Linked DNA regions of Homo sapiens: region 2 is linked to region 1. The links come from fine-mapping of genetic effects on gene expression. A gene starts in region 1. The other region holds a variant in brackets. All regions are shown on one strand. Distances are from middle to middle. Region 1 holds the start of LDB1 (LIM domain binding 1). Region 2 has its middle 14 kb from the start of HPS6.

What was found. PIP is the estimated chance that this variant, and not a neighbour inherited with it, causes the effect.
Region 2: its variant is fine-mapped to the expression of LDB1 in whole blood (INTERVAL, PIP above 0.99).

Annotation. Positions count from the first base shown.
Region 1 is chr10:102,117,346-102,122,713 of GRCh38, forward strand. It overlaps LDB1 (LIM domain binding 1), which reads right to left and starts at 3,023. Exons shown (of 11, transcript NM_001113407.3): 1 at 2,741-3,023. The coding sequence starts at 2,765. It also overlaps a transcript of PPRC1 not described here. RefSeq lists enhancers at 1-501, 502-1,203, 2,909-3,660, 3,661-4,412, 4,413-5,162 and silencers at 90-329, 2,663-2,732, 2,823-2,902, 2,963-3,262, 3,283-3,412.
Region 2 is chr10:102,077,057-102,082,424 of GRCh38, forward strand. No RefSeq gene overlaps it. Among named protein-coding and RNA genes, the nearest start is that of HPS6, 14 kb to the left of the region's middle. The variant C/CT (reference allele first, on the strand shown) is at 2,423.

The DNA of each region.
Region 1 (5,368 bases):
AGTTGCACAGGGGCAGAACAGGTCCAGCTAAAAAGAGCAAGTCTGAGTTAGAAGGCCTTAGAATTGGTGGTGAGGTGGAGGGAGCAGCAAATAATGACAAAGATGATGAGGGAAAGTACTCCTCCTGGAGGTGGGGACTCAAAGGACAGCAGCCAGCCCCAGCCCACAGGATGAGGTACCAGCACTGCCCCCTGCCCGGGCCCCTGGGGCTCCCTGACCCAGGCCTCCAGTGTGCCTGCCCCCCTTCCTTTGTCTGTGCCCGGCCTCCCGTTGGCCTGGCGCTCTGCCATCCTCCTCTCCTGGCTCCCAGCCGCCACCACTGCTGCCTCCTCCCCTCCCCCTACTCCTCCCTGCCTTAACCCTTCTGAGCCACATGCTGCCCCAGACAGGCCCTGGCCCCCTCAGCCTCTTGCTCAGGGTGATGCCCCTTAGTCAGAGGCTCTCCCTGCTCCCAGCCATTCCAGCCCCAGAAGCTGGTCCTCACCCCAGGAGCAATATGGGTGTTGGGCATGTGTATGTGTGTATCTTGTGGTGCTTCTGCGTGTGCATGTGTGTGGGTCTGTGTGCGCTCTGGCTTCCCTCAGTCACATGTGTGGGGCATGTGCTGTCTCTGCCGGGCTGGGGGAGGAGGAGGAGCCCGGAGACAGCAGAACACAAAGGAGAGACTCAGACAGGCAGGCAGGCAGGCGGCAGGCGGCCTGCCAGGGCGCCTCAGCCCTCACCCCAGGGCTGCTCAAGGTGGGGGAAATCTTTGGGCCTGGACTGCTACATGCTGCCATGCCTTCCTTGTGTTCAAGCATGTGCTCCCCCATCCAAGCAAGCTGCAAGCCAGGTCCCCTCTCTAACCTCAACTGCTACTATTCCCCACCTCCAGTCTACTCTGAAGCCCTCCCCATGTGGTTCTCCTTGAAGTCTAACCTCCATCCACCCTCTTTGGCATCAATCTATAAGACTTCTTCATGATCTGGAAAAAGACTCCCCACTCTTCCCTATCTTTTGCCCTCTCTCCCTCAGTCAGACCACCAGACACAAAAGGAACATGCCTTCTGGGGCATTGACTGAAGTTGTCTTCCCACCCACCCACAAACCCCTGGGCTTGGGCCCTCTTCCTGTTCCCATGCTGCTCCCAGAGACTAAGAAGAAGAGATTTTCTCTCTCCTCCCACTGGACCCAGGCACCCTGCCCCAACTTCAGGGCCAACCTCCCATCCACCTCCAGCCTGACAACCCCTCCATACATACATACCCGCTTACCCACTATTTGTAGGAACTAAGAATCACAATTTAAGACTCATCCCTCTAGCTTGTTCAGATCCTTAGTTTAACTGCTCTGCTCATGTGTGTTGATGGAGGGTCAGGGCCCTGGGGTGGGCTAAGAACATGATGGATCTGAAAGGGGTACCCAGCATGGGTCAATTATAAAGGAGAAAATCCACAACATAAACATGTACACCAAGCTGGTAGAAAGAGGGACGACGGGGCCAGACAGGATTCCAGCTTGGCAAGCTCTTCCCTCTCCTCTCCCCAACCCTCTGCAGCAGGAGCCAGTGGTTCCCATACTCGGATATTCTAGGATTGTTAGGTTCTCTTATTCCTCCTTCTGGGACCCATGCCCCTTAGACATCAGCCTCAGCAGGCACCTGAAGTGTGTGCCCAGCCCAGCTTGGCCTGGGTCACATGATTTTCAAGGAAGCTTCCGCACTGGCAGCTTCCCTTGGGGATTTGTGGGGGAGTGGTGGGTGTCCAGCTGTGAAGTATGTAGCCAAAGCGGGCTACATTCAGGGACACTGACTTCCAGGAGAAAGCTGACTCCAGTCTGGGGCAGGAGGGCCAATTCCAGGACCCAGAGTCCCGGGGATGGAGACAGACAGTGTGCCGTGAGGCCCTCTGTAGACTACCTCTCCAGTCGCATGGCTTCTCTCTTTCCTCCTGGCAGTGAGGTAGACGCCCTCCGCCCCCCCCACCTGCCCCCCAGGAAAAAAACTCAGACCTAGGCTATCCCTGGCAAGAGCTGATATGTTTTGGGGAGGCAGGGATCTGAGCCTGGGTCCTCTCTCAAGTTCTCAGTTTTGGGTCAAGTATTGCTCCCCCAGCTTACCTCTCCACAAATCACTCTATTTCCTAGCCTGCCCTCCCACTAGGGCGGAGATGCCAGACCCAAGGGTCCAATTATCTGGCACCTCTTAGGAGTACCTCCGGTGCCTCAGGAGGGCCAACCTTCCCTGGCAACAGGCAGGAAAAGTTGAAGGTGGGGGGCAAGATGGGCCGCAATCAATACCTCCCTGCAAACAGGGTCCTCAGAAACAGCATGGGGGGGATGTCACAGGATAGGTAAGAGGCAATGGGCAGCAGGGAAGGGGGGGCAGCCCAAACCAGCCAATCACAACTCTATGGTGACCTGAGGGGGGGGGTCAAAAGTCCAGAGTCACTTCTGATTGGCTAACAACCTGGAATTCTGAGAATTTCAGCCCCCCCCAAACCTCTCCCCAATTAGCCTACCCCCAAAAAAACATACACATAAGCCACCCCCAGCGTCTCCTCCCCGTGTTTCTGGGCTGCTGCGCATTTACACAGTTGGGGAAAACGCTACCCGCCAGCCTGAGGCCCCGCGTAGCCCTTCCAGCCCCCGGCTTCCCCCATGCCATCGACGCCCCCCACACAAGTTCTCGCCAAACACGGGGTGAGGGGTCCGCAGGGACGGCTGGGCAGGAAGGGGCCGAGTGGCCGCACGCCCCACTCACCAGGACAGGCACAGCCCACTGACATCTTCACATCGCCCGCCTCTGGGGGCCCAGCCGAGTCACGGTGCCCGCCCCTCGCGGGGACAGGCCGGGCATGAGCCGCCGCCGCCGCCCGCGGCCCCCGCTGCGCTCGCCGCCGGCCCGGCCCGGCCTCGGCCCGGTGCGGGCGGCCCCTGGCTGCGGCGAGGGGCCTGTCAGGCGCGGAGCAGACAGGAAGGAAGCCAGGCAGGAAGGCGAGCGGCCTCTGCGTGTGTGCGCGCGGGTGTGAGTCCGCGGAGTGTGTGTCCGTGTGTGCGTGTGTGCGCGTGTGCGTGTGCGTGTCTGTGCGCTCCCGCCGCCGTCGCCGAGCGCCCCCCTCTCCGCCCTCGCGCTCGCGCTCCCTCGCGCCGGCGCCGGCTCCCCAGCCCAAGCCGGGCAGGGCCGGGCTTTATTAATATGCTAATTGTCCTGCTAGTGGGAGGGGAGAGCCGTGTCAAAGTGACCCGGGAGAGCGCGCAGCAAGCGACGACGTGCGTGCGCCGCGCGGCGGGCGGGCGGCGAGGGGCTGGGAGCGCTCGGGGAACGGCATGCATGTGACGCAGCTTTTAAAAAAGGAGACGGAGGCAGAGACCCCAGAGAGGGAGGGCGAAGGGGAGGGCTTGGAGGCGCAGCCGCGCGCTCGGTGTCCGTCCTCCGGGTGCCGCCGGATGGGGAGTCTGGCTGAGCCGGAGCGGGAGCCGCGGCTGGGGGAGGCGGAGCCGGGGTGGGCAGTGTGGTGTATCTCTCTCCACCCCGGGCCGCGCTCCGGGAGGGAAAAGGGACTGCAGACCCCCTGTCCGTGCTCCCTGCTGAGACGCCAGCCTTCTTCTGGAGGCCCCTTGTTTCGCGTCCCTACCCTAGGCTGGATGGGTAAAGAAGCATTCTCTTAATTCTTGTAGCAACCCCTCAACTCACCCCTTCCCTAAATTAACCACTCCTCCTTTGCCTGCGAAACCAGTTGGGACTAGAACTAAAAGGGTTAATTAAGTGGGGTCCCCGCCCTCCTCCGCCTAAGGGCTTGGGATCTGTGTTTTGCTGGGGGGAGGGGGCTGCGGAATGACCACCAGATTGGATTACGGAGGGGCGATAGGAGGCCATCCTTCCTTCTTGCAGACTGACGCATCAGTCAAGACACTCTCTTCCCTTCCCCCCTTTCTCCAGCCTTGGTGCCTTCACCTCCGTACCAACCGCCCAACCCCACCGCCTCCGACCCCCCTGCCTGGAAGCTGCTGTCCTTTGAGGGCTTCGGAGATGAGAACAGGAAACAGGCCCCTCCAGTGCCCCCTAACCCAGAGAGGCAGAGGCTGTGGGCCGTGGGGGGTTGGATGGGAGATGATGTGGATGGTCAATGTAAGGAACACTCCTTCCCCTGGGAGGAGCCTCCCAACCTTCAGTCACACTTCAAGGACTCCCCAACCCAGCCCTAGGAGGGGAGGGGCTCCATCTCCATCCCTTCCCAAAAGCTCAGCTTTAGCTGCCTCATAAACAGGAAATACCTATTAGCCAGGAGGAGGGAAGGGAGGGGAGCCGCCTGGAGTAGAGAGTTGACCCCCTCCCTCCTGGGGTCCCCAGCTGCTAGCTTTTCTTTCTTAAGTTTCAGTATGGGCTCCAGGGATAGACGATGGAGACTTGGACTAGTGTCTCCTCCCTAGGGCGTCTGGCCCTGACTGGGTAGGGGGTTCTCCTCTTTGTTACTTAGAGGGGTGTTGGTTGAGAAGGCTGTTTGGTTCCCTCACTCTGGCTCAGAGTCTGCACAGCTGGCTTGACTGGCTGGGGGAGGGTTACAAATGCGGAGGCTTAAAGTGTTTATGAGACCTCTTCTCTCCACCTTAGGTTTTTGCTGAGGGAGCATGAAATGATGGAACGGTGCAGAGTCCAGGGATTGAAAAGAAGGCCTGCCTAGGAATGGAGACCCTCCCCACCATGTGCTTAGGATGGGGGATAGGGGAGCTTGTACACTGTGGAGTCTCCCACCCCCAGGTTTCCCCATCTCCACCCCCACCAGGAGCAGAGAGGACCTGACTGAAGCCATCCACACTCACACAAGTATTTCCTTGGCAGCATCCCCTGCCTGAGTGCACCCCCTCCCTGCATTCTCCCAGACAAAGGTCAGCACTAGAGGGAGTAGAGAGAACATAAGGCAACAGAACACTGGCCCGAAATTGTGGATACCTAGGTTTGAACGCAAGATTCGCTCCTCAATACCTGAGTGATTTGAGACAACTGACCACCCCACCTGGGACACTAGCTTTATCCTCTGTAACCTATGGCTTGGTGAGTATCAAACTAGACAATGTACACCCAGTCACGTAGCCCAGTGTCAGCCAGGCAGTCCTGTAAATACGTGTTCTTTCTGCCCTTTTTTTTTTTTTTTTTTTAAGATTATCCAATTCCAAGAGAGGAGGGGGCTGGATTGGCAGGACAATTTGAGATGGTTTGGAGGAGGGGGAATACCTACCTTGACCTCCTTCTCTCTTTTCTGTCCATGAATTTGCCTTCCTCCAATCCTGTGACCACTTACGCCTAAGGCCACTCATTCCAAACAACTAGCTTGGTCAGATTCCATGCTGACCAACACAATGGTGATCATCTGGGTGGACAGGGGGACTA
Region 2 (5,368 bases), 40 kb before region 1:
CAAGCAATTCCCCTGCCTCAGCCTCCCGAGTAGCTGGAACTACAGGTGTGTGCCACCATACCCGCTAATTTTTTTTGTATTTTAGTATGGATGGGGTTTCACCATGTTGGCCAAGATGGTCTCCATCTCATGACCTTGTGATCCTTCTGCCTTGGCCTCCCAAAGTGCTGGGATTACAGGAGTGAGCCACCATGCCTGGCCAAATTTCTTAAAATTTGAATTCAGCAAATCTTCTGTTTCATCAATTCTGTTGACATCCCAATGTCTTCCAGCTGCGTATTCACAATGATGGGGGCAGATGGTAGAAATGGGATGGTAATGTAAAAGTGGGATCTGGAGCTCAGAAGATACCCCCATCCCATACCTACTACAACATCTGTGCCTTCTTGTTCACTATTTTTGGGGTACCATAGAGAGACTACGGGTCCCCTGATAATATCGCAATTTTCTCTAACCCCAACTCCATGGGACTGATTATAGGAAAAGGGAGATTGGAGGTCAGCCCTACTAAGACCTCCTTGGACTGAGATTCTTTAGTCTTTGTGGCTCTCCTAGAAATATTTCCTTAAGGGGTCTGTTCCCGCATGGGGCTGAGGAAATACAGAGGTGAGAATAACAAATTAGGACCAGGCACGGAGGCTCACGCCTGTAATCCCAGCACTTTGGGAGGCTGAGGCAGGCAGATCACCTGAGGTCAGGAGTTTGAGACCAGCCTGACCAACATGATGAAACCCCCTCTCTACTAAAAATACAAAAATTAGCCAGGTGTGGTGGCGGGTGCCTGTAATCCCAGCTACTTGGGAGGCTGAGCCAGGAGAATCCCTTGAACCCAGGAGGCAGAGATTGCAGTGAGCCGAGATCGCGCCACTGCACTCCAGCCTGGGCGACAGAGCAAGATTCCGTCTCAAGAAAAATAAATAAATAAATAAATAAATAACCAATTGGAAGAAGCTCAAATGCAGTCATGTCTGAGGCAAGGAGGACATGAACAGTTGCCCTGCTTGGTGTCTTCAAGCCAGGACTAAGAGGAGAGGAGAAAGAGCCACACTACTGGCTGCCCTTTCATTCTAGAGACCAGGGCTGGCAGAAGTTTCCTAGATTTCCTAAATTTTCACACCTTCCCCCAGACTAGCGACTTGGTAACCTTGGGTCTCTTTCCCCACAATGATCAACTGTAAAATCCTTCAAAGGAAAAGGTACCATGTAGTTTTCTTTAGGGAGATGTGAACAGGGAGGCAAATAAGTGTGGGGAGAGCTGAGGAGATGGTACCCCCCTCAGCTTCCAATCTAGAGGAATGAGGAGTCCCAGGGATTGAGTAAGTAGACAGTAAGCAGGCTGAGGCTCTTGCAGCTTGTAGGAAGGAAGAAAGAGGGTGCAGATTATCAATTTGGATATTATATGGCTCCCAGTTCAGGAAAAAAATCCCCAGAGTCGTTGGGCACAGTGGCTCATACTTGTAATCTCAGCAGTTTGGGAGGTCGAGGCAGGAAGATCACTTAAGCTCAGGAGTACGAGACCAGCCTGGGCAACATAGTGAGACCTTGTCTCTATGAAAAGTAAAAAAAAATTAGCCGGGCATGGTGGTGCACACCTATAGTCCCAGCTACTCGGGAGGCTGAGGTGGACTGCTTGAGCCCAGGAGGTCAAGGCTACAGTGAGCTGTGATTGCACCACTGTACTCCGGCCTGGGTGACAGGGAGAGACCCTGCCTCAAAAAAAAAGAAAGAAAGAAAAGGGAAGGGGAGGGGAGGGGAGAGGAATCGCCAGAGTGGAAAGAAAAGGAACCCAGCTGAATGGTCTTGTCCTTGTAAGATAGGACAAAACAGTGTTCAGGGAGCTAGCTTGAATTGACAGAAGGATCTTCCTAGGGGTTTAACCCTGATGGCTTCCCCACCCATATTGGGACACCTCCCATCCTAGAGAACAGTCCCATTTTGTTGTTGATCACATGGAGGTTCATTTTCAAAAAGGTATTCAACAATGATACCTGTTCTTTTACATCTGGGAGCTGAGGAAAGTAAAAAAAAAAAAAAAAAAAAAAAAAAAAGATGGACAAGGCTGGGTGCGGTGGCTCACACCTGTAATCTCAGCACTTTGGGAGGCAGGAAAATCACTTGAACCAGGGAGGCAGAGGTTGCAGTGAACCGAGATCACGCCACTGCACTCCAGCCTGGGCGACAGAGCAAGACTCCATCTCCACACACACACACACACACACACAAATATATATATATTAGGACTAGATGTCTGGCTTGCCTCACTTGCCTTGTCAAGGCAGAACCAACCCCTCCAAATTCTGACATGAATGCCCTTACTCTTCCAAATCCTGACCAATGTCCTCGCATTGTTCTGTAGAGAATAGTGGTCTGGATGTTTGCCAGTGCTGACCGTTCCTTGTCATCAACATTTGTGGGCCTGTCT[C/CT]TTTTTTTTTTTTTTTTTAAATAGAGATAGGGTTTCACCATGTTGCCCAGGCTGGTCTCCAACTCCTGGGCTCAAGCAGTCCTCCACTGGGATTACAGGTGTGAGCCACCACACCCAGCCCTATCTCAATTTAAAGGCTCCTGAGGACCAGGCTGCGAATCAAGGTCTTCCTTGTCATACAAGGGCTTCTTAAAGTAGGAGCAGATTTCACCTCTAAGACTAGAGGACTCTCCAAGAGTGGGGTTAGGTCTCTCCCATCAAACTGGAGGCTCCTTGTTACAAACCAAGTTGTGACTCCCAAAAGGCATCCACCTAGAACCTCAGAATGTGACTTTATTTGGAAAAAGGGTATTTGCAGATGTAATTAAAGTGAGGATCTCAAGAGAAGATCATTCTAGATTAAGAAGAGCCCTAAATCCAATAATGAGTATTTCTTTTCTTTTTTTTTTAATTTCTTCTTTTTGGAGATGGAGTCTTGCTCTGTTGCCCAGGCTGGAGTAGTGCAGTGGCACGATCTCAGCTCACTGCAACCTCCGCCTCCCAGGGTCAAGCAATTCTCCTGCTTCAGTCTCCTGAGTAGGTGGAATTACAGGCGCCGGCCACCACATCCAGCTAATTTTTTTTTTTTTTTGGCAGTGTCTCACCCTGTCACCAGGCTGGAGTGCACTGGCGCAATCTCGGCTCACTGCAACCTCCGCCTCCTGGGTTCAAGAGATTCTCCTGCCTCAGCCTCCTGAGTAGCTGGAATGCTGGAATGATAGGCACGCACTACCACACCCAGCTAATTTTTGTATTTTTAGTAGAGATGGGGTTTCACAATGTTGGCCAGGATGGTCTTGATCTCCTGACCTGGTGATCTGCCCTCCTGGGCCTCCCAAAGTGCTGGGATTACAGGTGTGAGCCACTGTGCCCAGCCTAGTTTTTGTATTTTTAGTAGAGATGGGGTTTCACCTTGTTGGCCAGGCTGGTCTTGAACTCCTAAACTCAAGTGATCTGCCTACCTCAGCCTCCCAAACTGCTGGGATTACAGGTGTGAGCCACTGTGCCCAGCCCCAATAATGAATATTTCTAATAAGACAGAAAAGAAGAAAACACAAAGACACAGAAGGAGAAAGCCATGTGAAGGCAGAGGCAGAGACAGAGACTGGAGCGATGGGTCTACAAGCCAAAAACACCAAGAATTGCTGACAGCCACCAGAAGCTGGGAAAGTGGCATGAGGCAGATTCTCTCCTGGAGCCTCCCGAACAAACCTGCACTACTGACACCTTGGTTTGGGACTTCTGGCCTCCAGAACTGTGAGAAAATTTCTGTTGCTATAAACCAAGTGTGTGGTAATTTGTTATAGCAGCCCAAATAAATGCATCTACTGTACAAGAGTGAGGTCTCCCTCATAACTGCAGCTCCCTAAGGAGGGATGGATATTATATCTTGGGTAAAGGCTGTCTTTTGTGGGTCAGACTCAGGATGCCAGGGAAAGGCTGAGAGTCTCAGGAGAGGCTTCACCAGGCTCAGACTGAGGTTGAGCTTTAGGCTGTGAATTTGCAGTTCCTGGCCGAGCTCCCTTACTTGCCCAGGGTAGCCTGGATGTTGCTGCCCTGTGTCTGAAGCTCTTGGTCCAGCTGGTCCCTCTCCATAGTGAGCTGAAGGGCAAGGTCCCTGATGCTCTGCAGAACCTTTTCAAAGCTTTGGTTGCTAGGAAAGGAGTCAAGAACAATAAATGGAATATAGATCCTGGCATTGACAGTGGAAAGATGACTTGGCTTTGACCCCAGCCCAAGGAGGCACTGCTCTGCCAGGCCAAGCTGGAGCCACAATCCTGGAGACTCTTTGGATAACTTCCATCCTCCCCACTAACACACTGAAGAGCATTTCATACCTCAAAGCACCTCCCTGTCAGTCACTTCATCTGATCCTCCTATCCCTGAAGCCCACAGGGCAGGGGTTATGATGCTCAGATTACAGATGAGAAAACTAAGCTACAAACAGCACACTGGCTCCTTGGCTAGCAGATGAGAGAGCTGGGACTAGAAAGAAGATGGGTCTGCAGGCTTAAGGCCAGAACCTTTCCCCATGGACTCCTCTCAGCTGCAGAGTAGGACCCCAGCCATGGCTGGACTGCCATAGCTGCAAAATTTTTTTTTTGTTTTTTTTGAGACAGAGTTTCACTCTTGTTGCCCAGGCTGGAGTGCAATGGCACGATCTCGGCTCACTGCAACCTCCGCTTCCTGGTTCAAGCAAGACTCCTGCCTCAGCCTCCTGAGTAGCTGGGATTACAGGCATGTGCCACCACGCCCAGCTAATTTTGTATTTTCAGTAGAGACGGGGTTTCTCCATATTGGTCAGGCTGGTCTCGAACTCCTGACCTTAGGTGATCCACCCGCCTTGGCCTCCCAAAGTGCTGGGATTATAGGCATGAGCCACTGTGCCCAGCCTAGCTGCATAATTTTAACTTTGGACTTGGGGAAAGCAGATGTGTGACCAAAGGACCGAGAGCTTTACAAGTTAGAAAGCAAAGGAGGTGTATGTAAAATTATATCCTTCCATTTTATGACTGTCTTTGCTTCTTGAAGGAAGCTCAGCTGCCCACTCAGGCCTGGGGCATTTCTGCATGCTGCTGACCTGTTTGGATTGCATTCTGAACTGTTAGTAGTGTACCTAGAGGCTCACTGGATAAGAATTCATGAGAATTTAATCCCTCCTTCACCACCTATTGGCTGTGTAACCTTAGGTAATTTTCTTAACCTCTCTGTATAACCACATCAGACCAATCTCGTCCAACTTAATTAATTAATTAATTTTTATTTTTATTTATTTATTTATTTTTTGAGATGGAGTCTTGCTGTCGCCCAGGCTGGAGTGCAGTGGCATGATCTCCACTCGCTGCAACCTCTGCCTCCCAGGTTCATGCCATTCTCCTGCCTCAGCCTCCCAAGTAGCTGGGACTA